Regions from separate parts of the Homo sapiens genome. Here regions 2, 3 and 4 are each reported to be linked to region 1. The links are microRNA targets in miRTarBase. Many come from high-throughput screens and were not tested one by one. Region 1 holds a microRNA gene; each other region holds the end of a gene's coding sequence. Distances are between the middles of the regions.
Evidence for each region. The annotated mature microRNA hsa-miR-1226-3p reads UCACCAGCCCUGUGUUCCCUAG and lies in region 1 at 4,498-4,519, shown strand. An mRNA with a match to its seed (bases 2 to 7 or 8) in the 3' UTR can be bound and repressed. Matches are read on the target gene's strand: a 7mer-m8 pairs with bases 2 to 8, a 7mer-A1 pairs with bases 2 to 7 and ends in A, and an 8mer does both.

Region 1 (7,000 bases):
GGTTTCTCCTCAGGGCCTTCTCCAGACGTAGGGCTGTTCTGCTGTGACACATCAGGTTTAGCTTTTCTTGAATTAACTTTATTATTATTTTCTTTGAGACAGAGTCTCGCTCTGTCGCCCAGGCTGGAGTGCACCGTCATGATCTCGGCTCACTGCAACCTGTGTCTCCAGGGTTCAGGCGATTCTCGTGCCTCAGCCTCCCTAGTAGCTGGGACTATAGGTGCCGGCCCCCCACCTGGCTAATTTTTGTATTTTTAGTAGAGATGGGGTTTCACCATGTTAGCCAGGCTGGTCTCGAACCCCTGACCTCAGGTGATTTGCCTGCCTCGGCCTCCCAAAGTGCTGGGATTACAGGCGTGAGCCACCGCGCCCGGCCTGAATTAACTTTAGTTCATTTTTTAAAACGTTTATTTTGGTAAGTTAACATTTTCCTAGTTCATAATTTCTCCCTCCATCACCATGTCAGCCAAAATCCAAAATCTCTTAGAGATTACTTGGCACAACTTATGCGTTGGAGCTCCTGAGCTTGTCTGGGCTGGTTTTTGGGGAGCCCCAGAGCATAGACTGAGTCTTGCATGTCCCCCTGCAGAGCCTGGGCCTGGTGGACAGGAACAACGAACCGCTTACACACGCCATGTATAACCTGGCCTCTTTGCGTGAGCTGGGTGAGACCCAGCGCCGACCATGCACCATCCAGGTGCCCGAGCCCATCCTCCGCAAGATAGAGACCTTCCTGAACCATGTAAGAGGCCCTGCATCCCTCACCACCCCTGCTCCCTGTAGTCTGCCTCCATCTCTCCAGACTGAAGGCCTCCACCTGCGACAGGCAGTAGTACCTCCCCATTCTCTTCACTGAGTTTGGGGCCTGGGATCCCCCTGGCCTGAACAGCCCAGTCTTGCCCACAAGGATCCCGGGGCAGTCATGGACTAAATTAATCCTCTGCCCAGCGGGTTGGGCCACAACATCTGACCCAGGCGAATCCTGCAGAGTGGCTGGTTGTGTGTGAATGAGGAATTTCTTTTTCATTGTTTTGCTTGCCTCCCTGCCCTCCAGTACCCTGTGGAGAGTTCATGGATCGCCCCAGAACTCCGGCTGCAGAGTGATGACATCTTGCCCTTGGGCAAGGACTCAGGGCCTCTGAGTGACCCTATCACAGGCAAGCCCTATGTGCCCCTGTTGGAAGCAGAGGAGGTACGTCTCAGCCAGAGTCTGCTAGAACTGTGGCGGCGGCGAGGGCCGGTCTGGCAGGAGGCCCCCCAGCTACCTGTGGACCCACATCGGGACACCATCCTCAACGCCATTGAGCAGCACCCGGTGGTGGTCATCTCTGGGGACACGGGCTGTGGGAAGACCACGCGCATCCCCCAGCTGTTGCTGGAGCGCTATGTGACCGAGGGCCGAGGTGCCCGCTGCAATGTTATCATCACCCAACCTCGCCGCATCTCTGCTGTGTCTGTGGCACAGCGGGTCAGCCACGAACTGGGCCCCTCCCTGCGCCGGAATGTGGGCTTCCAGGTGCGGTTGGAAAGTAAGCCCCCATCCCGAGGCGGGGCCCTGCTCTTCTGCACTGTGGGTATCCTGCTGCGTAAGCTGCAGAGCAACCCCAGCCTGGAGGGCGTGAGCCACGTCATCGTGGATGAGGTGCATGAGCGGGACGTGAACACAGACTTTCTGCTGATCCTGCTCAAGGGCCTGCAGCGGCTCAACCCGGCCCTGCGGCTGGTGCTCATGAGTGCCACAGGGGACAATGAGCGCTTCTCCCGATACTTTGGTGGCTGCCCCGTCATCAAGGTGCCTGGCTTCATGTACCCAGTCAAGGAGCACTACCTAGAGGACATCCTGGCCAAGTTGGGCAAGCACCAGTACCTGCACCGGCACCGGCACCATGAGGTGAGGGACACCCCCATCCCACCCAAGGCTCCTGGCCTTTCCTCCGTGGATGCCCCTCCTCCCTGGCCCTGGGGCTTGGTGCCTGGGGCAAGTTACCCTCCCCAGTCCTCGGTTTCCTTGATAGAAACTGGGGACTAACCCTGCCTGCGTGGCACACGTGAGGATTGGAGTTGATGTCAAGCGGCTCCGTCTCACTGAGTCAGGTGGCTGTGTCCTTGGCATGACCCCTTACCCCGGGGCTGTGACTGTGGCCTCTCTTCCCCCACCCCAGTCTGAGGATGAATGCGCACTCGATTTGGACCTTGTGACTGATCTGGTTCTGCACATCGATGCTCGCGGGGAACCAGGTGGGTGCCTCCCCATCTGTCCCATGCTAGCCCTGGCCACGTTTGCAGCAACAGCTGGCTCATGCCCCAGGGCTCCTTTACAGGTGGGATCCTGTGCTTCCTGCCTGGGTGGCAGGAGATCAAAGGAGTGCAGCAGCGCCTCCAGGAGGCCCTGGGCATGCACGAGAGCAAGTACCTCATCCTGCCAGGTGAGAGCCCCGGCGGAGGGACCAGGGACCTTTGGAAACCAGCCTGACCTCTGTCCTAGGGACTGACCCAACTGGGACTCCAGGGGCCCCGGTTTCTGACCAAGCTGTGGCACTTTTCACTGGGCATAGTGTTTATCTGCGCCTGTTTCATCAAAATGGGGTCAAAATCCTTGCCCTGCCCACATTCCAGGGGGGAATTCTGGTGGAAGCAGTGCCCATAACTGGTGTGTGTCTTGCCCACCAGTGCACTCCAACATCCCCATGATGGATCAGAAGGCCATATTCCAGCAGCCTCCAGTTGGGGTGCGCAAGATTGTCTTGGCCACCAACATTGCTGAGACTTCCATCACAATCAATGACATCGTGCATGTGGTGGACAGTGGGCTGCACAAGGAAGAACGCTATGACCTGAAGACCAAGGTGGCACCTACCTCCTGGGCCCGGCCAACCACTGGGGGAGGGACTCCGTTTTGAGGTGGTCCCCAGCCCAGATCTACCTTAGACCTGCTTTGTGTGTCTTCAGAAGGCCGCGCTTGTGGGGTCTCAGTGTTCCTGATGTAGGGGGCTGGTGAGGGTTACTCAGGGAGTGGGGAAGCACTGAGGAAGTGGCATTTGTGTGCTGCTTACTTGCCACCTCCTCCAGGTGTCCTGCCTGGAGACAGTGTGGGTATCAAGAGCCAATGTGATCCAGCGCCGGGGCCGGGCGGGCCGCTGCCAGTCCGGCTTTGCCTACCACTTGTTCCCTCGAAGCCGGCTGGAGAAAATGGTCCCTTTCCAAGTGCCAGAGATCCTGCGCACACCTCTTGAGAACCTGGTGCTGCAAGCGAAAATCCACATGCCTGAGAAGACGGTGCGGCGGGGCGGGGCAGGGGCTGGCCTGGGGACCAGGCAGGTGGGAGGCAGGCTCATGGCGGGCTCTGGCTCTGTCATAGGCGGTGGAGTTCCTGTCCAAGGCTGTGGACAGTCCAAACATCAAGGCAGTGGACGAGGCTGTGATCTTGCTCCAGGAGATCGGTATGTAGGGGCTGGGCTGGGCTGGGCTGGGGAGTGGCTCTCGAGGGTGGTACTGACAGCTGAGCCGTTGCAGGGGTGCTGGACCAGCGGGAGTACCTGACTACCCTGGGGCAGCGCCTGGCTCACATCTCCACCGACCCCCGGTTGGCCAAGGCCATTGTGTTGGCTGCCATCTTCCGTTGCCTGCACCCACTACTGGTGGTCGTTTCCTGCCTCACCCGGGACCCCTTCAGCAGCAGCCTACAGAACCGGGCAGAGGTGGACAAGGTCAGTCCTGGCTCCTTCCTGGAGCCGTCCACCCACTGCTGTTCTGAGGGGGCGTTGTCTAGCCCCTGCCTGTGATCCGGCTGCCCTCTTCTCCCCTCCCAGGTGAAAGCACTGTTGAGCCATGACAGCGGCAGTGACCACCTGGCCTTTGTGCGGGCTGTCGCCGGCTGGGAGGAGGTGCTGCGTTGGCAGGACCGCAGCTCCCGGGAGAATTACCTGGAGGAAAACCTGCTGTACGCACCCAGCCTGCGCTTCATCCACGGTCAGTCGGGCCCACACCTGCTCTCCTGAGCCCCTCCCACCCCCACTGAGTTTCTGTCACCTCCAGCCTGTGGCTAGGGGCTGTAGGTCCACCACACATTCTGTCTCCCTAGGACTCATCAAGCAGTTCTCAGAGAACATTTATGAGGCCTTCCTGGTGGGGAAGCCCTCGGACTGCACCCTGGCCTCCGCCCAGTGCAACGAGTACAGTGAGGAGGAGGAGCTGGTGAAGGGCGTGCTGATGGCCGGCCTCTACCCCAACCTCATCCAGGTGCTGCCTCTGGGAGGGAATGGAGTTCACCAGGTCCCAGCCTCCTTCCCTGTCTGCAGCTCCTTGCTCAGCCCCACCCGTCTTTTCCTCCATCCCTGCAGGTGAGGCAGGGCAAGGTCACCCGGCAGGGGAAGTTCAAGCCCAACAGCGTCACATATAGGACCAAATCAGGCAACATCCTGCTGCACAAGTCGACCATTAACAGGTGAGGGCATGCAGGCCTGGATGGGGCAGCTGGGATGGTCCAAAAGGGTGGCCTCACCAGCCCTGTGTTCCCTAGGGAGGCCACACGGTTACGGAGCCGATGGCTGACGTATTTCATGGCAGTCAAGTCCAATGGCAGCGTCTTCGTCCGGGACTCCTCTCAGGTGCACCCGCTAGCTGTGCTGCTGCTGACCGACGGGGACGTGCACATCCGTGGTGGGTGCCTGCAGGCCTCCCGCCCACCCCGCTCTGCAGCTGCTCCTCCGGGGCCTGGCCTCACCACAGTTCCCCACCATCTTTTCCATTCCCTCAGATGACGGGCGCCGGGCCACCATCTCACTGAGCGACAGTGACCTGCTGCGGCTGGAGGGTGACTCGCGTACCGTGCGGCTGCTGAAGGAGCTGCGGCGGGCCCTGGGCCGCATGGTGGAGCGGAGCCTGCGCAGCGAGCTGGCTGCACTTCCCCCCAGCGTACAGGAGGAGCACGGGCAGCTGCTTGCGCTACTGGCAGAGCTGCTGCGAGGACCCTGTGGCAGCTTTGATGTGCGCAAGACAGCTGACGACTGAGCCCTGCTTCTGCTGGGGCTGTGTACAGAGTGCAAATGTTTATTTAAAATAAAGTTCTATTTATCCCTTGTGACCACTGCTGTCCACTAGGGGCTCCTCTCTCAGGGCCTCCATACACTGGGCCACGGTTCCCCAAAGAGGAAGGAGGAAGGTAGGTAGAGAAGAGAGTGAGATGCTTATTGCTGGGGAACGGGCTGGCTGTGGCCCCAAGTCTTTTAAGAGAGAAGGGGGTTGGAACCTCCTCCCTTCACCAAGAAAGAGCATGAAGCAGCGGTGCTGTTAACCACCCCAGTCCCCTGGCACAGCTGCTGCTCTCGGTACCCACCACAGGAAGCCTGTCAGAACTGTCACTGTCCTTGTAGTTTTGGACAGTAAGTAAGCAAGTAAGTGTCAAGTAGCCCTTTATCAGGCAGACTAGGGGAGAGTTCCACAGGTAGCCAAGGCGCAGGGCTATGTGGCACAGTGGTCCTTCCCGTGTCCACATCCACAAGTTCACAGCTGAGGGGCTGAGCTGAGGGCAGGAAGATCCAGGGAGGTGGTAGATGCAAAACGAGACAGAAGCACGAAGCCTGCGTGATGGGACATCAGGCAGCTTTATTTATTTACTCTTAAAACTGTTACAACAGAATCATGGACTGACACAGGTAATGGCTGAGCCATAAGCAAATCGAGAAGTACAGAAATGTCCCACCCCAAACAGCTGCGGAGTACACATCACACAGGGCCTCTGGTCCCGGCCTTCTCAGGTGCTCTGGAGTGGAGGATCCTTTGAGGGAACTCTGACCACTCCTGTTGTCTACCTAGAGAGCACGCCACTTGGGCCACCTACCCCCAACCTTTGGCCAAAGGAGTGAAAGGACCTGGAACCTGTCGTCAACCTCAGCATCCTCATGACCCCAGGACAGACGCAGTGGAGGCAGCAGGTACTCTGGGCCTGTGCTGTTGCCCCTGAGGTGTCTCCTGACTACGCAACCCTGTTTCCTTCCCACTTTCATCCCAGCAGGCCCTTTCTTCCTGCTGACAAAACACTGGCTCCCTCATGTTCTTGGCACAGCAGAAGTGTTCTGCACATGGTCTCTACGGAGGAAAGCTGGTCCCCCTGGCCCAGGCAGCACTTCCTCCGTGAGCCCCTGCAGTTTCCTGGTGTGTGCTTGGGGAGCTAGGGACATGGTGTCAAACCTCCACAAGGCACTGCTACCTCAGAAAGGGGGAGGACCTGTCAGGCCCAGGACAGCCTCCCTGCACATGGAGATCAAATCTAAACTTAGGTCAAGACCCCTACCTTCTCCAGGGATGCCAGGACCAGAGAAGGGCAGAGGTCAGGAGGGGGCATGAGGAGGCCAAGTCTGGGGCAGCCTCCTCAGAGGCAAATCTACACTGCAGCCAATCCCCCTCCAGAGAAGCCCTTGGAATCTCCCAGGCCATTTCACTACAAACTTATGTTTGAATCCTTTATTAGAAACCATGCAAACTTTAATACAAAAAATACAAGTGCAATAAGAATCTTTGTGTCAATACAGTTCCCGGGATTTCTCCTCACTGCAGCCATCCCAAGGCCTAGCTGGGATGCCCTCTGTGGGCCTTGCCTCTCCTCCCTCCCCTCTCCAGTCAGGGCATAAGGGAAGCAGATAGCCTTAGTCTCATGCCTTTTATTTTTAAATTTCCAGACCTGATTTCCTACTATCTGCATGAGGCTCCCTTGGACATGAGGGCTTACATGTCCTAGGGTGTGGGTGCCGGCCTGAAGGAATTCCATCTCCTGGCCCTTTCTTGTTCTCCAGCCCTGGCTTTTTATCCTAGGGCTGACCACCAGATCCCAGGGAATGGGACAGAGATGCCAAAACCAGCCTCTTGGTTAGAAAAGAAAAGCAGCATACACACAACAAAATGGCAAAACCAACCAGTCCACGCTCCAAGGGCCCCTTGTGTGCCTGACCGGCTCACCAGCCACAGCCTCTGCACCCCTCTTCCCTGCCGCACCGCCTCCAGG
Region 2 (7,152 bases), not on the chromosome of region 1:
CTGCTATTCTCTCCACAAAACATGAAGGGGCCAGAGTGGGTGGAGAGACCATGAAAATAGACAGCTATGCAAGGTCGCATGACCAATGCCGGCATTTTCCACTTTCAGAATGGCACAGAGAGGTTTCTAGAGAAGGACCATTAGACAGCCGTCCTATGGTCAGCGCTGGATTCTGTGTTGTTCTGAGCTAAGAGCTTGTCCTCATCAGGGAGCTGGTCCACAAGGGACTTTCAGGAGCTGATGCAGAATGACCAGTTGCTCAGTGGTCCAGACCCACTCCCCATCTTCCTAAGGTGGCTCTTGGAGAGCCCAGGACACGGGGGTTGGCACGCGAGGCAAAAGGCTGAATTCAGACCCACACCTTGCCAGACACCCATCCAGAAGTGGCCTCTGTGTGTGGGTTGCTGTTGGCTGACTTGGCCATGAGGACTGAGGGGGCCGCAGGACAGACCAGGGCAGGAAGGAAAGATAGGGCAGGCCCAAGGGGAGCCGAGTCATAGGCTGGGTTCTCAGGGAAGGATGGCTGGCAGCTCCAAACCCACGGCCAGGGGACAGTGGACTCTGGCTCAGGACCCTGATACTACCTCACCTGTGGGCACGGCTCTCAGCAGATGCAACCTCAACTCCAACCTGAGAGACCAAAGTGGGGCAGGGCAGCAGAGCCCGGAGTCAGAGACGGCGCAGGCTCTGTGTCGAGTCCTCCAGAGGAAAGCTCTGCAGCCAGGGAGGCAGGGGCGACAGCAGGGACCAGCCACCCAGGAAAGGGACAGGAAAGGGGGAAAAAAACAGCAAAAGGAGCCAGGTTCCAGGCAGGGACTGGGAGTTTCTGAATGGAAATGCACGCCAGGCCATTCCCGGTACACCCATCACTGACTCCCAAGAGCTAGCACATCTGGACCCCTCCCACGGGTGCAACCCATCTGTCAGGAACAAGCAGCGCTGCGTCCCCAGGGGCTCCAGCGCCTACACTTGGAGGTGGGGCCGGTCATCCCCACCATACATGCAAGACGCACAAAATCCAAATAAAAGTCTGACGCACGGTGATAACTTCTGTTGAATGAGAAGACGTGAGTGGCCATCGTCACACACGGGATGAGGCCATGACCAGCACAGCAGCTGCTTGTCCCTCTGGCTGCAGAGGGGGTAGATCCAAAGCGTGGGGCCTGAGCACGTGGGGTCCTACCCGCTCCTCTTACAACGTCTAAAACAGCAAGATTCCGAAGGTCTTTCAGGTTCCCAGATTTGGACAGAAGGGCTGTGCGCTGCCTGCTGCAATACTGAGAGGAGGAAAAGCCTCCCGTGCTTGGAGGACTGGCGTTGCTCCTGGAGTCGGGACGGCCCAGTGCTAAGCACCAAGCTCACCTTGTCCCAGGAGAGGGCAGACCAGTGGAAATGCACTTTCCAGCCCACTGCCTGTCACAGCCACCTTTCTGTTCGTGCTTCCTAAACCGAACAAAGCTCAATGACAAGCAGGGGAGAGTGTGGAGACAAACGCGCTCGTTCTGGTGGGAGGAGTGGCGTCACGGCGGAGCCGGGCAGCAGAAAACTCATGCTTTGATGGTAGTCCGGCTCTCTACCCTACCTGCTTGTTTTTTCCTTAATTCCCACACTGTGACTCCTGCCCCAGCCAGCTCAGCTCCAGCTCTGCGGACACAGAGCTTGCCAAAGTCATGTCGACAGTCACTGCAGGTCCTCCTCTCCCTGACGCGTGTGGAGCACCTGACCCAGCCTGGCCGCCTCACTCCTTCCCTCGCCTCCCAGGCCCTCTGCACTCTCCTCAGCCCTCCAACACCTACAGTGGGCTCTGGGGGGTGCCCTGCAGCTCAGGCCAGACCCTCCTTGCGGCTCAGACACCCCCCTCCACTGCGGGCTCGCCAAGTCTCACAGCTTTCAGATTCTGCACATGCACAACCCTGCATCAGGGGCTTCCACCTGGGCCTCGCCCCTCAGCCACTGCTAGCATTTCTGCTCTCACTGCCACGTGTCCAGCGCTGAGATGCTGCCCGGGATGCAGGAGGCCCCATCAACGTTCACTGTAAGAAAACCCACATGACCACGCGTAACATGCCAGAGGAAACAGCTTTTTACAAATTAAAAGCTGGGATTTTTAATATAATCACCAGGTATAGTCTCATTAAAAACATGTTTATTCAATGAAACTACATAGCACTAAAATGAGAGCTTCCCAAAATGTAACCAGCAATTGGATCTAACTAACTAGGGAGCTTCAGAATTTTAATTTAAAGATAAAAAGTGTTCACTTGTGAAAAATTTACTATTAAAATAATTTTTAAATTAAGAATTTTAAAACTATACATCAATAGTAAAAGCGAATGAGCAAACTTACTCACATGCTTAAAGATAAAATTTGACAGTTTCATTTGTCTTCCTATTAGAACCCTTAAATCAGCCTCCTTCAAGCAAGCGCAGCCAGCGTGAGCCAGGGGACAGACACTTTCAGTGGAACATTTATGGCTCTGAGAACAGCACCACTCTTTTGGGGACAAGTCCATCACTGGAGCTCCCCGGCCTCCTGGAATTCAGGTGGCAATGTCCAACATCCAAACTCACAGAGCCTGGCATTCCGATGGGGAAGGACAGAAAGGCTGGGACCCTCTGCTGAGAAGAGGCTCCTTTTCCCAAGGGAAGCTCGCTGCTTCGAGTCACACACGTGTTGCTGTTATAAGGTCCTTTGCTTTGACAATTCGAGAGAGTATTAGAAAACACTAGCGGCGTGAGGTGACTACTGACAATCACCTCCTCTGTTTTCTGGCTCATGATTTTCCTAAAGCAAAGCCTCAGGCTCCCGGCTTCTATTTATATCCACATGTAAAGCCCCAGATCACTCGGGCACCTGCTTCCATTCATGGAATTCTGGCCAGCCAGTGGCTGATGCCTACACAAGCTTTTCTTCAAAAAGCCCCAATTTCTGACAGCCATGGCAGCTTTCCCTCCACCCCTATTTTGCCAAACCCCCAAATCTTGCAGATTTATATCCAGTGTGAGCACGGACTATGCTTCTTCCCAGAAAGTAGCCGCCTGCTTGCTTCTTTGCATTGACATTTGCACTGCTAAGAACAGCCAATCCAGAAAGCTATAATTGGTAAGCAGGGCACAGAGAAATTCAAAGCCAATTATTAGCCAAAAAATGGGACAAATGCCAAACAAGACAAGAGCTTCTTCCACTTCTGCTGTAGCAGAGAAACCACCACGAATTCAATTGAAGCGGCGTAACTGAAGGTCCCTGGGTCCACCTGTGGCCTGGAGGCGGCCGCCTGTTTCCCTGCTGTTCTTGCCACAACACCTAGGCAGAACATGGAGGTTCCACAGCTGCCTGGTGGACAGCAGCCAGCAGCCTGGCAGCGTGGGGCTGGTGAGCTGCTGCTGCTATCTACCCAGGCAACTCCATTTTGCTGAGGTGGTCCTAAGTAGCTGCATGTAATCTCTCCTAAGAAGCTCAATGTTCTTAACAATTTGGTTTTAACAGTTGATGGAACAGAAAGATACGTTAGAAAAAAACAAGGACTTTCTTTTCAATACAGAATTCTCATGCCTGTAAACACATGCCTGTATGAATAAAATCCAGACACAAAACCATACTGCTGCAACAGCATGATTATTTCCTGATCTCCAAAGCACTGAGAAGTCCAACATGGAATCCTGGAAAATGCACGATTATTTTGATCCTGGTTTGTTGGTGCTGTTGTTTTAGTTGTAAGAGCTTTCGTGAGACGAACGCATGTACTGCTCTGAAATAAGGAAATCGGGGCATCTCCTCACCTCTTCTTGAGGCTTCTATGTGGAGAGAAGAATTGGACAGTGTTTATTCATCTTTCTCTGCTGAACATGCATGTCATTGAAAACACCAGAAAATCAAACAGACGAATGTCCTCAGCACTACAAATTACATACTTCCCACTCCATCAAGGGAATGCAACCACACAGGGTCAGACGCAAACACAGGGGATGATCAGAGCACCCGAGTCCACACCATGCCGACACGGAGCCCTGCATGGTTGGAGAGCTCTGCCCCTCACAAGGGCAATCCTGACCACAGGGCAGACCTGCCCTCTCACTGCTGAGGACACTACCCGTGCAACCACCAAGGTTGAAGGAAACAGCTAGCTCTTTGCAGCCAAAGACATTAGGAACAGCTAAGATAATTAAAGATGGCTTTCTTTTTCTTTCCTCCCCTCCACAATGGGTTTGTGAAGTGCTCAGAGCAAAAGACACTCTGTGACTGGCCCAATGCCCAGCTGTGCTTTCATTTCATGATTAAAGCTGTTGGTTTCCTAGTGAAATGCAAAACTTCAGCCACTTAAATCTCGACTCCAATTCAAAACTCCTGGGAAACTTTATTTTCAAATTCTTAAAACAAGGAAGGAGGCAGGGAGGAAGGGAAGGGAGGAAAACAAGGACAGACGGAAGGAAGGAAGGAAGAGAAGGAGGGAAGGAAAGAGGCAGGGAGGAAAACAAGGACAGACGGAAGGAAGGAAGAGAAGGAGGGAAGGAAAGAGGCAGGGAGGAAGGGAAGGGAGGAAAACAAGGACAGATGGAAGGAAGAAAGGAAGGGAGGGAAGGAGGAGGAAAGAAGGAGGGAAGGAAGGGGAGAGGGAAAAAGGCAGGCGGACGCAAGGAGGGAAGGAGTGTGCATCTTCTTCGCATGCTCCGCAGCAGCGAGGCCTGGTAGAGCTTCCGCGGGGAGCAGAGCATCGTCCTCTGCACCAGCACTGGAACTACTGCCCACAGGCGGCTGTGGAGTGCCTGAACTATGGCCAGTGCAACCAAGGAACCCAATTTTAAACTCTATTACATTTTAGCTCATTTAAATTTCAATACCCACATGTGGCTAGGAGCTACCATATTGGACACAGTGGAGCTTTACAGTGGAAAACCCACAGTTCAGTAGGACTCACAACTGGCAGCCTGATTCCTAATGGACACAGTGGAGCTTTACAGTGGAAAACCCACAGTTCAGTAGGACTCACAACTGACAGCTTGATTCCTAAACCATGATGCTGAACCACAACCAGCTTGTTTTGGTTTTCTAGGCTTCAACAGAGATGAATAAAGAAATCTGATTTTCTTTCTCATTTCTCAGTTTTGACTGGCAACTTGATTTTCTGGGTAATAAAGAGAGTATATTATTTTGCTTTTGCATCTTATGTCATCAACAGCCTAAGCTCAAATCTCCCTTCAAAGGAGTTTGAGACGCTGAGGACGGCCACGTGAATCTTTCTCAACGTCTCTCTTAAAACATATTGTTCTGTAAATCTGTGGTAATTTTCTCCTTTTGCTATTTCTTCTTCACGTTCTTATTTTTTCTACTCTAATGTAGCACATTACTAAAATAAATACAGTAGGCCTTTAGAAAAACTCTTCAGCATAATGTAAGCCTCAATTAAACCACACCACACCAAACAGGGCCCAGAGCAGCGTGTGTGCACGTGTGCAGTTTCGACGTGCCCGCACGCACATAGACGTACGATGGGGAAATTCCCATGGAAACACTTTTATTTCTGGAAGTCAGAAGAAAAACAATGTGCACAACCTGAATGACACAGAGCGGCAGCGCTGAAACCACAGGGGCTGCCGAGAGCTGGCCTTTCACAGCAGACCACTGTTTTCCAGTGAGAATGGTGGGCCATTCCAAAACAAAGCTAAAGGGTTCCAAACATCCAGAATGGAAGCTGCTTCCCCCAACTCCATTACCTATACTACAGGATGGATTGCTTTTTGTGAGACCCCTTCTTCCACTGTGCAATTTTTGCATTATTTACCCTCCCCCGATCTTAAAGCTATATGGCGTCCAGGAGAGTGCGGCTGATGCAGCTTGGCCATCACTGTGATGCAGCTGGAGCAGAAGGCGGCCCGTTCACTTCAGCCAGATCCACTTGTCTCCCACCTCGGTGTTGTACCCAGGGCTGTACTTGCGGCCCGGCAGCTGTGGGGGAAAAAGGCATTGGTGCATTCTGTTTAACGTGAATGAATGTTTCCCCAGCTCATAGTTCAATGTCTACCCGGCAGATGCCTGTACTTCATGAGTTCCTTCAGCAATGCTGGTGAGCACATGATCTGTGGCAGGTGTCTCCTGTGAGTGCAAGGATGCCACAGGTACACAAACCACAACCCAGCCCTGCCTGCCAGAAGCTTCTGTCCTAGGGCTGGGAGCCACAAATGGAAACGAACTACTGAGTGTTCTCATTAATGTCAGGAGGGTGACAAGAGCCACAGGAGGGGGACAGAGAGCAATGGGTGGCACTTAGGGGAGGCCCTGAGCAGGGACAGCCACGCAGACACAGGGGTGGGGCTGGGACCCAGGAACCACAGTTCACCAACTGAAACACCGAGTTCTCTCTGAAAAAGCCCCGCGTGAAATTCCCTCTGAAGAGGGCCTGCAGAGGCCGGGCCGCTGGCTGTAAGGGGCCCTTGGCGGAGTAGGAAAGTGAGTTTCATCCAGGCCTTTTAAGTAGACATGGGCAGGGTTCAGGAAAACCAGCAAAGGAGGGGGAAGCACTGCAGGACTGACCCTAGCGGGAGCCACTGAACATCCAGGAGCGACAGGACGACAGAGCCCAGGAGGAGCGGATGCTGCCAGAGAGGCCAGTGGGGGGCTGAGCTTGGCAGTGATGGAGCTGCAGAAAGGATGTTACAGGCCCCACTTCTCCCACCATCTGGGAGAGATCAGGGGCTCAGGTGGCGGTCCACAGAGGCCAACCTCACAGGGCACAGGGAGATCTGGGGGGCAACAAGAGCCCCTGCCAGCACAAAGACGCCTGTTCATGAGGGTAGGCGGCCAGCACAGGGCTGGCTGAGACGGAAAGAGGAGTGTTGCTCCGCAGGACCACCTCGTTGCGGAGCCAGGAGAAAGCGCTCAGCACGGTGTGTGTCGCCCAGCGATGGCAGGTGGGAAAATGATGAGTTTTTTCATATTTTCAAATCAGCATGGGCACACAGTCAATTTGTGTACACACACACACACACACACACACACACACCCCTTCCAAATTCTGCCCTTAAGAACAGGTACTAAAACCATTTTTAAAAGAATCAGCTTTTCCTTTATCCTAATCAGCAGCAGGCATTCACAGCCATCCACACAGCCATGGCTGCCTGGATCACAAATCACTGAAATGTGCCTTGCCTGGCCTC
Region 3 (7,124 bases), 150 Mb from region 1:
ACAGATTTTTAATGAAGTGAGAGCCTCAACCCTCTGTGACTGCACAGATCTGACGGTGGGTGGAACCTGCCCAGCGGAAGGGCAAGGCCCGGCAGTGGGCTGGCTGCGTTCTGTGCCGTGAGGGCAGGCCCAGTCCACCCTTGCCTCTCTTTTATGTTCCGCAGGTTCTCCTCATCCTGACTGCCCTACAGCCCTCCATCTTCTCAGTCTTGGCCAACGGTGGGCAGATTGCTTGTTCGCCTCCCTATTCCTCTAAAACCAGGTCTCAAGGTGAGCACGTTAAGCCTCCTGTCCCATCGTGGGATGGATGAGACGGGGAGAGTCAGGAAAGAAGGGGCCCCAGAACAGACATTAGGCCAGCCTGACTTCTGCTCAGAGTGTTCAGAAGGGATCTTCGGGAAATCCCAACAGAGGCTTTAAGGAAACTATGACCTCTCTGATCACACAGAAGAGAAGTGAAACCCCACAGCTTGAGGCCAGCCCTGAGGGCCAACCCAGGAAGCCATGGGTTCAGTCCTCAGCTCCTGGGAGAGGAATGGGAATGGTTAAAAAACAGAAGCCCATGTTGATTGAACACACATAAGAAATGGACTGTATGCCAGCCTCAGAGCACAGAAGTAGACAGCCAACTTCCGGTTCTGGCTCTACCATTAACCCGCTGTGTTATTTATGACAATTTCGTATCCCTAAGTCCTGATTTGGGGATAAACTGGAGAAAGTGTTGCTCAACTCCCGTGCCCGGGCTGCTAGTAAAATACCACCTCTGTAACTCAGCATAACCTACGCTGTATTTCACCCTACACTGCAGTGATGAATTGCCACCTCCTCATACTGGAGACTTTTCTAATGACTGTGCTGACACGAATGTACTACCGAAGGAAAGACCACAAGGTTGGGTATGAAACTTTCTCTTCTCCAGACCTGGACTTGAACCTCAAAGCCTAAGGTGGATGGCTTGGACAATGAAAGGATGCTGTACTCATTAGAATACAAGATTCCTTTACTGTCCCTCAACCTTGACCAAATGGGAAGCATTCCCCCTTGTCAACACAAGCTGGCAGATACATTTGACTCTACAGATGAAGGTGAACAATGTTAGAATAAAATTGCTTTGGATCTTGCCTGGAAGGTGTTTTAAGTTTTGTAATAAACAAGATGATGTCTGAAAATGTGTAACTGGGCACCTTGCCTCTGTCCATGTCACTATTAACCCTTCAAGGTTGTATATTGCTGGCTAGGTGCGACAGCTCATGCCTGCTATCCCAGCACTTTGGGAGCCTGAGGCGGGAGGATCACTTGAGCCCAGGAGGTTGAGGCTGCAGTGAGCAATGGTTGTGCCATACACTCCAGCCTGGGTGATACAGCCAGACCCTGCCTCTGGAAAAAAAAGAAAGCTTACTGAGCTTTCCTAAAGCAGATGAAAAGAAGAGTATATAGTATTGTGTCTGGCATAAGAAAAGGAGAACTTGGTGAGGTGAAATAGCACCAGCCCAGAGTCTTGAAGAAGCCAGGGGCCCTGGAGAACAGATGGAAGGTGACCTTTCCCTGACAGGTGTGCTACTACGGCACCAACCACGCGGGGCCCTGGTGGTCTGGGTCAGCCTCACTTTGTGGGACAATGGCTTTTGAGTCTTCAGTGACAAGCTAGAAAAGGAATCTCCTGACACTGTGGTCATGGAGCTTGATTTCTAAGGAGAGAGTCAGCACGTGGAAGCAAAGGCACCGAGAGTCCAAGTAAAAGTCCCAAATCCATAAAATGCACCACACAGGTCAAAACACAGGACACGGCCGGGCGCGGGGGCTCACGCCTGTAATCCCAGCACTTTGGGAGGCCGAGGCAGGTGGCTCACCTGAGGTCAGGAATTCGAGACCAGCCTGCTCAACATGGAGAAACCCCATCTCTACTAAAAACACTAATTAGCCAGGCGTGGTGGCGCATGCCTGTAATCCCAGCTACTTGGCAGGCTGAAGCAGGAGAATCGCTTGAACCTGGGAGGCGGAGGCTGCAGTGAGCCGAGATTGCGCCACTGCACTCCAGCCTGGGCAAGAAGAGCAAAACTCCGTCTCAAAAAAAATAAAAATAAAAAATAAAAACACCACTGGACATGGAACATCAGGTAAAACCACACTGCCTTTATTTGGCTAAAGAACAAAATCCAAAATAACTCAGAACAAACTAAGAACAGACAGGAAAATTACAGACTGAACCCCACTTGAGGAAGACTTCCCCACGGACTCACACTGGTGATGGGGCGAACGTTCAAGACGAAGCCAGCAGTCCTTTCCAAGACTCTTTTGTCTTTTAGGGATCCTCAATACAAAACAACCCAACTAATCCAGGATATGTGTTCAAAACAGTCAGTTTTCCCCCTCAAAAGGCGGGAAGGCCCACTTCAAACCTCCAGGAACACAACCCAAGTCATCCCAGTGTTAAACCTGGTGCTTCCGTTTTCTGCCTCAATCCGAGCGCTAACATAAAATCTTGGCAGACAACAATCTTTCTTCTTCAAGAAAATTAACATTTAATGGTATAATCCCAAGAACATGTTCTACTTATTTACTTGGAAAAATAGAAGCTAGGGACCACTCTTTATCCGATGGCAGTCTATTCTATGAGAGAAAACAAGAACAATCATTGTTATGACTTTGAAAAATAGAACCTTTAAAAATACTTATATTGGTAAGCTTAAAAAAATATCATCAGTTAAAAACATTAAGGGGGCTTTCTTTTTCTACCTGTATTGGTTCAACTTCTGGTGAGAATGTGTGCTGATAGAAAATCTAGAAGCTATGGCTTTTAGGGAATTAAAGAAAAGCAGCAAAATATAATTGATTTGGAAAGATTTTGGATAAGTGATCTGGAACAGGATTAAAAAGGCAAAGAGCTCTTGAAAATAAGCTACCCATAGTCAAAATAATCCAGGAAGGGGGAATGACGCCCTATGAACCACTGTGGAAAGAACATCTAGAGATGGTCTGACCAGCTGTGCAGCCTCCAAAAAAAAATCACTATCGCTCAGGTGCAGCCCCCCAAAAACCACCATCACTCAGGTACAGCCTCCAAAAACACCACCATCACTCAGGTGCAGCCTAAGGAGTCATCAGTGATCAGAAAGTGGCTAAGTTTCCTTAGCCTCCCTCATATTTTTTCTCTTCTTCAGGATTTTCAACCTCCTCACATCCCTAACTTTCTTACCCAAGCCTCAGCAATATAATGGTCTTTGGCTCTAGCTATCAGCAATAGCTGCAAGAGCACAAATGATCCCTTCCTAGTCCTCTAAAGTGTCAACCTCCATTCTTCAGTGCTTCTGAATCTAGCATAAGACCAAGCTTTCCGTCCGGCCCACCGGAAGGCAGTGGCTGCGCCGGCACCTCCCCGGCTCTGGCCTTCTAATGTCTCACACACAGAGGCTCTGCTCTAAGGCCAACACTTCTGGCTCTCTCATCTTGGCCACATTTGGCCCACCCATGTTGACTGCTTTCTCGTGTGTGATTCAGGGAAACAGCTCCATAGCCTCAAACGTTAATATCTGAAGATTTAGATCCCAGGCATTGTGGTGGTGTGCACACCTCTAACCTCATTTAATTAGGCACAGATGACCACATTATGCAACTTCCCAACAGCTTTCTCCATCTACCCGTGCTAGTCCAGCACCTCAGACCACATTTACCCCAAAGTATCTAACAGGCCACACTATAAAAGATTTTAGCTTTCAGTCAGACAAATAGCTTTCAGTCAAAACGATTAGACTGAGGTGGTAGAAGCTCACCAAAAGGGGAAAGGGAGTTTCCCAATAACATGTACGTTTGCTGGCCCTAGCAGTCTCAGAGGCCTGTCAGCCTGCAGGTCCCGTTCCAAGCACAGGGCATGCCAAGAGCAGCCCACTGAGAGCAGAGGAAGAGGGCTCAAACATTTGGGACCCAGACAATATATTTAGGAGGTATGGCTCCAATAGGGAGGGAGGAGGAAAACCACGTTCCGGGCATCTCCCTGTCTATCCAAATACACTTGCATAATGTGCACTTGGAGGAACCAAGCAGATGGGCTTCAGCACAGACTTCACTGCCACACCACACCAGGGAGAATAAGTTAGACAGAAACAGGCAGCATTCCCAAAGAGAGAAGGCTGACGCAGAAAAGTTCAAAGATGAGACTATGTAACACTGGGTAACACAGGAAAACACTAACTTCAGCTGTTTCAAAGACAGACAGGATTCCAAGCCAAAGCTTGTATGACCAGATTTAAGAGTAAGAACTGCGCTTCAAAGAAGAGTTAGAAATGTCGTTGTCATAGGCGATCAGGATAACAAGAGGCTTCATTCTCCCTCGCCTCTGTGACGCTCTTTCTGGGTGATCCAAGTTTTGTTTTTTTTCTAGTTGATTATTTCTCTTTATTTCTGTATGTGTGTGTGGTTTTTGTTTTGTTTTGGAGACAGAGTCTCGCTCTGTCACCCAGGCTGGACTGCAGCGGCACCATCTCTGCTCACTGCAACCTCCGCCTCCTGGGTTCAAGGGATTCTCCTGCCTCAGCCTCCCAAGTAGCTGGGATTACAGGTGCCCACCACCACGCCTGGCTAATTTTTGTATTTTTAGTAGAGATGGGGTTTCACCACGTTGGTCAGGCTGGTCTCAAACTCGTGGCCTCAAGTGATCCACCAGCCTCAGTCTCCCAAAGTGCTGAGATGACAGGCGTGAGCCACCACGCCTTGCCTGGGTGATCCAAGTTTTAAGAACCAAGGTAGTCCTGCTGTGCAGGCAATGATTCTAGCCTCTGACCCTCAGGCGGAAAACTAGGTGTTACCAGAAAGTGTTTAGGGAGTGGACTATGAGATGCTCACAGTCCTAGCAGAGGCAAGGAAAGAGAAAATGTGGTTTTCTTAGCTGAAAACACTAAAATTCCACCCCCACAAGGGGTATTTATGAGTGACAGGGGTGGGGCCTGGACATAAGCAATTTTCCCCTGGATCTAGCCACAGGATTACTGATGGGTGATGATCTGCTAGGCCGCGTAGCTAAGCAGCTAAGGAGACAGGAGGCCAGGGCTTTAAAAGTTAGAGCATGCTCAACAGCAAGTGCTAAGCATTAGCATTCTTTGATTTGAAAGTCAAGTGTTGAATCCCCCCGGGCAAGCCAACAAGGCAGATGGAACCACAACCACCAGGCGTGTGTGAAAAGTGGGGAGAAAACCTACCACACTCTTGTCACGTGAGGGTATGCTCTGTGGCTTGCTGGAGGAGCAGCAGAGGGAGGTCCCTGCCAGCTGCAGCTCTCAGAGGAAAAGAAAGATGTGGAGCACTGGTTCCAGGGAAGAATGTTCTGAAGAGGGACAGAGGTCAAGGTGATAAGGCTGTTGCTTTAGAAAGGAAGGTGTTTCCTATGCTTTTGCCTTTACATTCTGTGCAAATCTCTCTAATATGGCTATGACCAAAATGGATTAACATCAAGTTCCAACAGCAGACATTTACAAAGTATCCTTTGTAAAAGGCTAGGTAATATTAATAGCATTCAAATAGGAGTAGCAGGGCCAGGCACTTACTCCCAGTAGGAAACTAATCTCAATCGACTTGGTATAGGATTGAGTATTGTCCCGCTCCTCTCCTCATCATTGTAACTCTAAAAGTGTTCCTTCCTTCGAAGGTAGATGGCACGAAAGAGACTGACAAAAGCTCCCAAAGAACTGGGTCACAGAGTTTTCTGAGAAGATGAACACAGCAGAAACACTGCAGTTGATGCCATGGGTCTGCTTCCATCCCCATCAGTGTCTTCATGGACCCCATTGGGTCCAACAAGAAACTCCTCAGGGAGTAAGAAAAGTTAGGTTCAGATCTCCTTCCCGCAGCCACAATGACACTGGTGACAGCAGTACGTTCAGGGGATTTGTGACTGTAACTCTGCTTTTCGCTTTTCCTTAAGGAAATCAAAATTAAGATATTTCTCCACAAATTACCCATCAGCGTGGCTCATTTCGTGAAGGACTTGGCAAGCCACATAGCTTCAGAACGGAAGGCAAATGCTATAGTATACCGGGAAGAAAAGGCCTCTGCGTATTACACTACCTCCTTCTTCTGCCCACTCCTCAGGGGCAAAAAATTAGTTCTACATTTGAAAGACGAATTTTTTAAAAAATTAATGAAAATGACAATTTCCCTGTTGAGATCACGTGAACATAAACAGTGAAACAAAGCCCTTGGGGGGGGGTAAATGGATGCAGAGCAGGCTTCTAAGGTGCAGTCCCCCTCCTTCGTGTGGGTGAGTGATGTCACTTGCAGGACAGGCTGTTTGGGTTCCCCCAGTCCTAGGTCTTCTTTCCCCAGTTGTCTTTCCTTTGTAGCTGTCCTTAGGTTTAGTGTTGGGGTCACAATTTGGAATTCAACAGAGAGCTTCTGAAGGTAATGGGACAGAAAGGGAGGACAGGAAAGGAGGGAGGAAACATTAGTCTTCTTCATCCTCACTGATATCATAGGCTGCAGCCTTGTGCCTGGAGAGATTTGCTGGGGAGCAAGGTGGGGAAGTCTTGCCGGAGAAGGGCCATCGGAAAGAGGGGGAGGGGGAGCGCTCGCGAGTAGGGCTGCTGCTGGGGCTCTGCTTCGGGCTGATGGCCTGCAGCATCCGGCCCTTCCCCTCTTTCAGCATATGTTTCTGCAGAAACCGAAAGGAAGAGTCAGAAAAACACCGTGGATCCTACTTAATCATCACTGAAGCATCTAGGACTGGGATAGTCTATGCTGTACTATTTATTTAAGGGTTCTCCCCTGCTGTCATCACCCGGGAAATTCCCCATTCTTCCTCAATAATCTAGTCTAGGATTATTCTAATTTATCCAAACACCTTCACAGACAGATCCTTCCTGATATCTAACCTAGGACTCACTTGCTCAATCTTTTATTTGGTTGAAAAGACTGCTACTCCTCAAAGACAGAATTCCCACCTTACCTGGGGTTCCTGCTGCAGCTACTTGTAGTGGAGGCTGCTTTCTTTTTATTGTTCTTTATTCTTTCCTTTCCTTCTATCTAAAATCATACCACAGATAAAAGCTGGGCAAGGCGACTTGCTTATCTTGTCACCAGACTTTAAGGTTGAGAGAGAGCTGGCAAAATTATCTAGGAGAATGTGTAACGTCTTT
Region 4 (7,152 bases), not on the chromosome of region 1:
GGGGTGGTCTCTCCACCCCTGGCCCCCAACTGGGGCTGAGCCCCCACCTGCCCAGTTTGGTGGGTGAAGGGTGCTCCCTGGCAGGATATGCCCCTCTGCAGCCCAGAACATCCCACCCTTTCCAGACCGAAGGGGTGTGGATTGTCCTGGGACCCTGGTCATTGGGGTCATCCGCTAGTCGCAAAGGACGGCAATGCCTGTGGCCTCTCTTTCTTTCTTTTTCTTTTTTTTTTTTTTTGAGACGGAGTCTCGCTCTTGTGCAGAGAGCAGTGGCGCGATCTTGGCTCACTGCAACCTCCGCCTCGTGGGTTCAAGCGATTCTCCTGCCTCAGCCTCCCGAGTAGCTGGGATTACAGGCACCCGCCACAACGCCTGGCTAATTTTTGTATTTTTAGTAGAGATGGGGTTTCACCATGTTGGCCAGGCTGGTCTTGAACTCCTGACCTCAGGTGATCCACCTGCCTCTGCCTCCCAAAGTGCTGGGATTACAGGCATAAGCCTCCACACCCGGCCACCCCTGTTACTTTCTGTCAAAGGCGGTGGGTTCTGGCCCCTCCTTTGCACATGGAATATGAGACCCTGAGTAAGTGACCTGACTCCCTGGGGCCTCAGTTTCCCCATTTGCCCAGTAGGATTGTCGGGAGGGTCCGGTGAGGCCCCTGGTGTGCCCAGGCTCTGTGGCCAGCACGTCCACAGCCGGCACTGTCCTTCCAGGTCGGAGGAGCGGCCGGTGAAGAAGCGCAAGGTGCAGAGCTGCCACCTGCAGAAGAAGCAGCTGCGGCTGCTGGAGGCCATGGTGGAGGAGCAGCGCCGGCTGAGCCGCGCCGTGGAGGAGACCTGCCGCGAGGTGCGCCGCGTGCTGGACCAGCAGCACATCCTGCAGGTGCAGAGCCTGCAGCTGCAGGAGCGCATGATGAGTCTGCTGGAGAGGATCATCACCAAGTCCAGCGTCTAGGCCAGCAGGCGGCGGCGGCGGCGGGGCCGGGCGGCTGGTGGTACTGCTCAGGCCACCCAGGGCAGGCCACTCAGGCCAGGCGGGCAAGGGGGCCGCCCCGCGAGCGGAGACCGCCTTCCACCTGGCCTCTGGCAGGATGTCCCTTCTGAGGGGTATTTTGAGGAACCCCCAGGCCCTGGGGACCGTGAGGCTCCAGTCTCCAGCATGAATGCCCTTCCTCGGACACAGGCCAGGGCCTCTGGGGTTCACTCCGAGTAAGAACGTCCTAGAGCCACTCTCCAGTGTCGTTACTATCAATGATACTTGACGTGGCTTTGATATTAAACGTATACTTTTTCATTCTTGCCTGGAACGCACAGTTTGCTGTTGCTGGCTTGGTGAGGATGCCCTGATTGATGGATCCCGAAAATGAAAGCAGATGGAAACGGGTTGGGGCAGGCTGGAGCTGGGGGAGCTCTCTCCTGAAGGGAACCCTGTGTCCTCCCTCACCAGGACCTCTGCGTCTCTCCTTAAATGGCCTCTGACGCCTGATGAAAACCCCAGCGACCTTCCAGGAGGCTTTTATTCAGCTCTGTTTGGAGCATCAGGTGTTTCCACTGCCTCCTTAGCAATGACACTAATAAAAGTCGTAACACCTGTTCACATGCACAGCCCTGTTGAGTGTTCTGGGTGCTGGAGATATCATGGTGGATGACACAAAGGCCCTGGCCTCTTGGAGCTTATGCTCCCATGCGGGGAAGACACATGGGTCAGTAGAGAAATGGTTGCAGGTTGTGATAAGTGCTGGAAGGGAGGGGTTGGCCTGAGGACACGGAGGCAGACATACGTGGAGCTGGGAACAGTGGCCACACAGGGAACGGCCAGTGCGAAGGCCCAGAGGCAGAGGACACTGGAGCAAGCCCAGGAGCAGCTAGGAGGCTGGTGGCCAGCAGCCAGGCCACGGAAGCCCGTGCAGCCCGTGGGGAGGAGTGTTCATGCTTTTCAAGCTTAGTGGGAGTCTTTTGGCCAGTGCAGCTCTGGGTCTGACATCGGTGGGGGACAGAGGGGTGGTGGAGCGGCCACAGCTGCAAGCTCACCTCACTGCCGGCCCTTCCACCAGTTTCAAACTCTTTCTAGAAGCTCCAGCTTTCCCAAAGCTGAATTCTCTATGAGCCTCCTTGGCCGGGACTCGGGCGTCTGGTTGCCCTGGCTGCAAAGGAGGCTGGGGCCAGGTGTGTTTGAGTCACCTCCTGGAATTAGGCAAGTTGCTGCCCAAATAGAAGGTTGTTGGCAGGTGGGTCAGCAGGTGAACAGCATGGTTTGACTCAGGGTTCAGAAAAATCTCCCTCTGGCTGCCAAGCGAGCAGGCCGTGGAGACAGGTGCAGAGGCAGGTGTGGCAGCAGGCATCCTGCCAGGCAGTGCTGCAGTCATCCTGCGACAAGCAGCAGCAGCTCATCCTACCCTCTAGGGGGTCTTGAGGTCAGCCAGGCAAGAGAGCAGCTTGGACTCCACTGGGTGTGGGACCAGCCTGTGGACCATGGTGGTGTGGAGGGTGCCCTCGGCCTGCCTGTGTGAAGGAGAGGCCGGCGTGTTCTGTGGAGCCCAAAGGGGAGCTGGGCAAGCAGGATTCACTTCACTCTGAGGGTCCTGGAGCTCCCACCCTCCTCAGCCATCTCCCCAGAGCCTGTGTGCCGAGGACTCGGCCCATGTTGCTGTGGGATGAGAGGCAGAGTGTCGTGAGGGTGTAAGGAGCGGCGGCAGTGGTGGGAGGAGGGAGCAGCAGCCAGCGCTACGGTGCCAGTTTCCAGCTGCCAGATGACGCCGCTGACCCTGTGGTTGAGAAGAGATGCACAGAGCCAGCTCTTGCAAGCCAGTGTGGCTGCCATAGCACCTGCCGAGAAGCAGAAGGAAGGGTGGCCCCAGGAGGACAGAGGATGCGGGCACATCTGATGCGGGCCTGAGTTTTGGGAGCTTTTGCTCTAGCCAGTTTCCAGCTCCGGGACCCACCCGCCTCGTAGGCAAGACACCACCCAAGAAATCATTTGCTTAACAAACACACTGGGCTCCAACTGGACACCTGTGCCACCCTAGATGCTGGGAACCCAGCCATGACACAGGCACCTGCCCCCAGCTGCTGACCACTGAGGCTGGCTAGCAGCTCCCATGGGGCCAGTGTGGGGTTCCCCAGCCTCCTAACAGGGAGCCAGTCACAAGCCCTCGAGAGGGAAGGGTGCCCGCGGCCCTGGCAGGAAGGTTAGGCTGGACGCTCCCACAAGACATAACAGATGGAGGTTCTAAATGATGTAGCAACTTCTTCACCCTGAAACTGCTGTAGAGTCAGCCATGACGCACCGGTACTTCAGTAACTGCCAGGCATCCGGGACAGCACACCGCGAGTCGCTGCTGTGCTTGGGTTAGAAGTGGTTTGGTCTGTTTTCTTCTCGCCCTCTCTAATCAGAGTCAGTGATTCATGCCCTTCCATCACCTTAGAGAAGGGGCAGGCGCTGCCCGACCTTCTCCAGGCTGGAGCAGCATCGCCTCATGTCAGCAGAACTCAGCTGTAGAATATCGTGGGGTTGGTGCCTTTCATCAGCAGCATGTCCTTAACAACTTTCTGATTTCTTCCTTAGTTGTTGGTCCATTAAGGAGAAAAAAAATGATCTCAGCCATTGCTAAAATATTTGATAAGATTCAGCAAAGCAGCATGTTAACATTGAAAACTAGAATCAGGAGCCAGGCAGATGTGCTTGCTTTTCACCTGTAGTATTTCATGTTGTTTTGACGTTTTTAGCTAATGCATTAAGATAAATAAACAAAAGCCGGGCACGGTGGTTCACGCCTGTAATCCCAGCACTTTGGGAGGCTGAGGCGGGAGGATCCTCTGAGGTCAGGAGTTCAAGACCAGCCTGACCAACATGGAGAAACCTCGTCATTACTAAAAATACAAAATTAGCTGGGCGTGGTGGTGCATGCCTGTAATCCCAGCTACTTGGGAGGCTGAGGCAGGAGAATCGCTTGAACCCGGGAGGCGGAGGTTGCAGTGAGCTGAGATTGCACCACTGCACTCCAGCCTGGGTGACAGTGAAACTCGGTCTCAAAAAAAAAAAAAAATTAAAAAAAGATAAATAAAATAAGCAGGATAAGAAATGAAGAAAGTAGAGTTACCTTTGTTTTCAGATTTCATTTTTGTATACCCAGAAAGCCAAATGTACAAAAGACTGGGAGCTCTTTAAACCAGCTTAAACTTGTTGAAAATGAGGATGAAGAAATATCCCATTCAGAGTTGGAATGAATTTAACCCAGAAGGAACAGGACCTCTACTGAAGAGAACTATGCAGTCTTACTGAAAAATCTAAATAATACCTGAGCGCTGGAGAAACTTCGCACACTCCTGAAAGCTCCAAAGTCAATGTCATCATTTTATTAATGTCATTCCAAACATAGTCTCAATAATATCACTTCTTGGTTTTGACATGGACGCGATGATGTTTAAATTCATATGAAAAAAGAACGGGGCCAAAAGTCCAAGGCCAGTCAGCGTGAGAAGACCGCTCGGCCTCCCTCGGAGTCGGGGAGTTGGAACCGCAGACTGAGATCATGTGGCTGCTGGAGGCCAGGACGAACGTCGGGAAATGGAGACTCCTGCGTTGCTGGTGGGATGTGGTGCAGCCGCTTCCAGGAGCAATTTGGTGTCCCGTCCTAAAGCTGAAGAAACGCATTTCCTCTGGTCAGTGCCACTCCTAGACAGGCCACCCTGCGGCAGCCGTCCTCAAACTGGTCTGAGGACCCCTCAACGCTCTTAAAAATCATTAAAAGTGGGCCAGGTGCGGTGGCTCACACCTGTAATCCCAGCACTTTGGGAGGCCAAGACAGGCGGATCACGAGGTCAGGACATTGAGATCATCCTGGCTAACACGGTGAAACCCCGTCTCTACTAAAAATACAAAAAATTAGCCGGGCGTGGTGGCGGGCGCCTGTAGTCCCAGCTACTTGGGAGGCTGAGCCAGGAGAATGGCGTGAACCCAGGAGGTGGAGCTTGCAGTGAGCTGAGATCACTCCACTGCACTCCAGCCTGGGCAGCAGAGCGAGACTCTGTCTCAAAAAAAAATAATAAATAAATAAATAAAAATAAAATAAAATAAAATTCATTAAAAGTGCCAAAGAACTTTTGCTTATGTGAGTTCTAATGACCAATATTAATACACATTAGAATATCTTATTAGAAATTAAACCTGAGACCTTTAGAAAACATGTATTCATTTCAAAATAGCAATAAACCCATGACATATTAACATAAATAACAATTGTATGAAAAATATATTTTCCAAAACAAAAAGTTTTCGGGAGAAGTGTGGCATAGTTTTACATGGTCGTAAATCTCTGGCTTAAGAGAAGCCCACTGGCCTCTCAGCAGGCTCTGGGTCCGTCCACTTTGGGGGTGTTTTGGTTGTGAAGTATAGGAGTGAATGGAGAAGCTCATTCTTACCCAGATGTGTATTTGAAAAGAAAAGGAACATTTTAATAACCTTTGCAAATAATCGGTATATTCTTCCGTGATCCTATTCCAACACTGGACAGGTGGTGGTTTGTTTTTTTTTTTTGGAGACGGAGTCCCGCTCTGTCACTCAGGCTGGAGTGCAGTGGCGCGATTTCAGCTCACTGCAAGCTCCGCCTCCTGGGTTCACTGCAAGCTCTGCCTCCCGGGTTCACGCCATTCTCCTGCCTCAGCCTCCTGAGTAGCTGGGACTACAGGCGCCCGCCACCACACCTGGCTAATTTTTTGTATTTTTAGTAGAGATGGGGTTTCACTGTGTTAGCCAGGATGGTCTCAATCTCCTGACATCGTGATCCACCCGCCTCGGCCTCCCAAAGTGCTGGAATTACAGGTGTTAGCCCGGCCGACAGGTGGTGGTTTTTTACTGGCCGGTTGTGTGTGGAATCTGATACCCTATCAATGAACTTCTACTTCATTTCAGGAGAATCCATTGGTCCGTCTTGTGCTTCAAGGACTCTGTCCATCATGCCTTTGTGACCTCACACGCTGGGCCTTTGGTTCACTAAGTTATGCGGATATTCCAAATGCTGACACAGTTCCTTAATCAGTATTTTAAAATCACTTTTGGCGATATCACCAATCTTAGAAAAGTCTTTCAGTTGGAAAGGTGGTGAACTCATGGTGGTGTCTTTCAGAATTCTGATTTTTGCATGAAAGCTTGAATTTTATCATTGGTAACAAATGCTGTCAGCTATTTTCTTTGAATGAGACAGGCTCACTTTGTTCGTTTTCCAAAAAAAAAAAGTCTGCCAGGACACCCAAGGCTGAACAACCAGAGTTTTTGCACATCCTTTTTTTGAGTAAAAAGTGTGCTCCATACGTGTGTTCCAGATCCAGACGGCAGCTCAGCCCATTGCACACCTGCATTTCCTCAGCGTGGACGTGGGGCAGGCGCGCCTTCCAGTTGCTCGGGCAGGACGTTGAAAAGATGTGGACCCAGGGGTCAAGACCTCACACACTCGACCATTTTCACTCCATCACGGACATTTGGAAGTGACCGGCGTTTCACACTGCAGCTGTGCGGTGCGAAAACCCCTCAGGGCTGCGCCGGGGCTCGGGGCCTGCCTGCGTTCCTGCTCAGGTCTTGCCACATCAGTGCGCATGTCAGCTCCGTGAAGACCCCGTGAAGACCCCGTGATCATCAGACTATGATGAAAGCAGCTGCAACCTCAGGGACCCTTGGTGACCCACAGGCCGAGACCTGAGAACCACTGCCTGAATGCTGGAGCGGGCACACAGGTGACCTGAGCGAGCCTCGTCTGTCCTTGCCCGGTACCCAGAGCTGGCTCACTGGCGATTGGTGGACGCACGGGCGCTGTCACACAAAGGGGCCCTCCGTGTGACTGGGTGGCGTCATCACAGACAGCGTGTGGGAACCGTGCCCCCAAGCGGGCCCAGAGGGACTCCCTGCTGTCTTGTAGGCACTGGGGATAGGGTCAGGTGGAAAGCAGATACAAATCTTTGTCTTTACAGGGTTTCGAGTTGAGGGTGGGGCTAGACCAACAATAAACACGTAAGTGTCTAGTATGTTAGAAGAGAGGTGCTTTCCAGGGAAATAAGGCTGTAGGGGGATTGGAGCCGTGGGGTGAGAGAAAAGGCCTTCAAAAAATGTCATGTGAGCGGATGGAGTGGGAGGGGCGCCCTCACCTGAGCACTGGGAGC

Region 2: miRTarBase lists NDUFA10 as a target of hsa-miR-1226-3p. Seed matches in the 3' UTR shown: 7mer-m8 at 4,723-4,729.
Region 3: the mRNA of PCYT1A is a reported target of hsa-miR-1226-3p. Seed matches in the 3' UTR shown: 7mer-m8 at 4,655-4,661.
Region 4: miRTarBase lists MSANTD1 as a target of hsa-miR-1226-3p. Seed matches in the 3' UTR shown: 7mer-m8 at 989-995.

What each region holds. Positions count from the first base shown.
Region 1 is chr3:47,845,111-47,852,110 of GRCh38, forward strand. It overlaps MIR1226 (microRNA 1226), which reads left to right and starts at 4,445; the gene lies at 4,445-4,519. It overlaps DHX30 (DExH-box helicase 30), which reads left to right. Exons shown (of 22, transcript NM_138615.3): 10 at 590-742; 11 at 1,055-1,891; 12 at 2,163-2,238; 13 at 2,322-2,426; 14 at 2,671-2,846; 15 at 3,070-3,276; 16 at 3,359-3,440; 17 at 3,514-3,707; 18 at 3,810-3,969; 19 at 4,082-4,239; 20 at 4,341-4,444; 21 at 4,520-4,659; 22 at 4,757-5,083. The coding sequence ends at 5,010. MAP4 (microtubule associated protein 4) reads right to left here. Exons shown (of 21, transcript NM_001385682.1): 21 at 5,585-7,000. RefSeq lists a silencer at 2,061-2,162.
Region 2 is chr2:239,955,243-239,962,394 of GRCh38, forward strand. It overlaps NDUFA10 (NADH:ubiquinone oxidoreductase subunit A10), which reads right to left. Exons shown (of 10, transcript NM_004544.4): 10 at 2,130-5,944. The coding sequence ends at 5,876. Among named protein-coding and RNA genes, the nearest start is that of MIR4786, 16 kb to the left of the region's middle. RefSeq lists enhancers at 333-1,253, 1,254-2,174.
Region 3 is chr3:196,232,255-196,239,378 of GRCh38, forward strand. It overlaps PCYT1A (phosphate cytidylyltransferase 1A, choline), which reads right to left. Exons shown (of 9, transcript NM_001312673.2): 9 at 2,114-6,640. The coding sequence ends at 6,434. SLC51A (solute carrier family 51 member A) reads left to right here. Exons shown (of 9, transcript NM_152672.6): 8 at 165-270; 9 at 809-1,173. The coding sequence ends at 945. Among named protein-coding and RNA genes, the nearest start is that of SLC51A, 19 kb to the left of the region's middle. RefSeq lists enhancers at 298-367, 488-777.
Region 4 is chr4:3,255,011-3,262,162 of GRCh38, forward strand. MSANTD1 (Myb/SANT DNA binding domain containing 1) reads left to right here. Exons shown (of 3, transcript NM_001042690.2): 3 at 715-1,603. The coding sequence ends at 955. Among named protein-coding and RNA genes, the nearest start is that of MSANTD1, 9.4 kb to the left of the region's middle.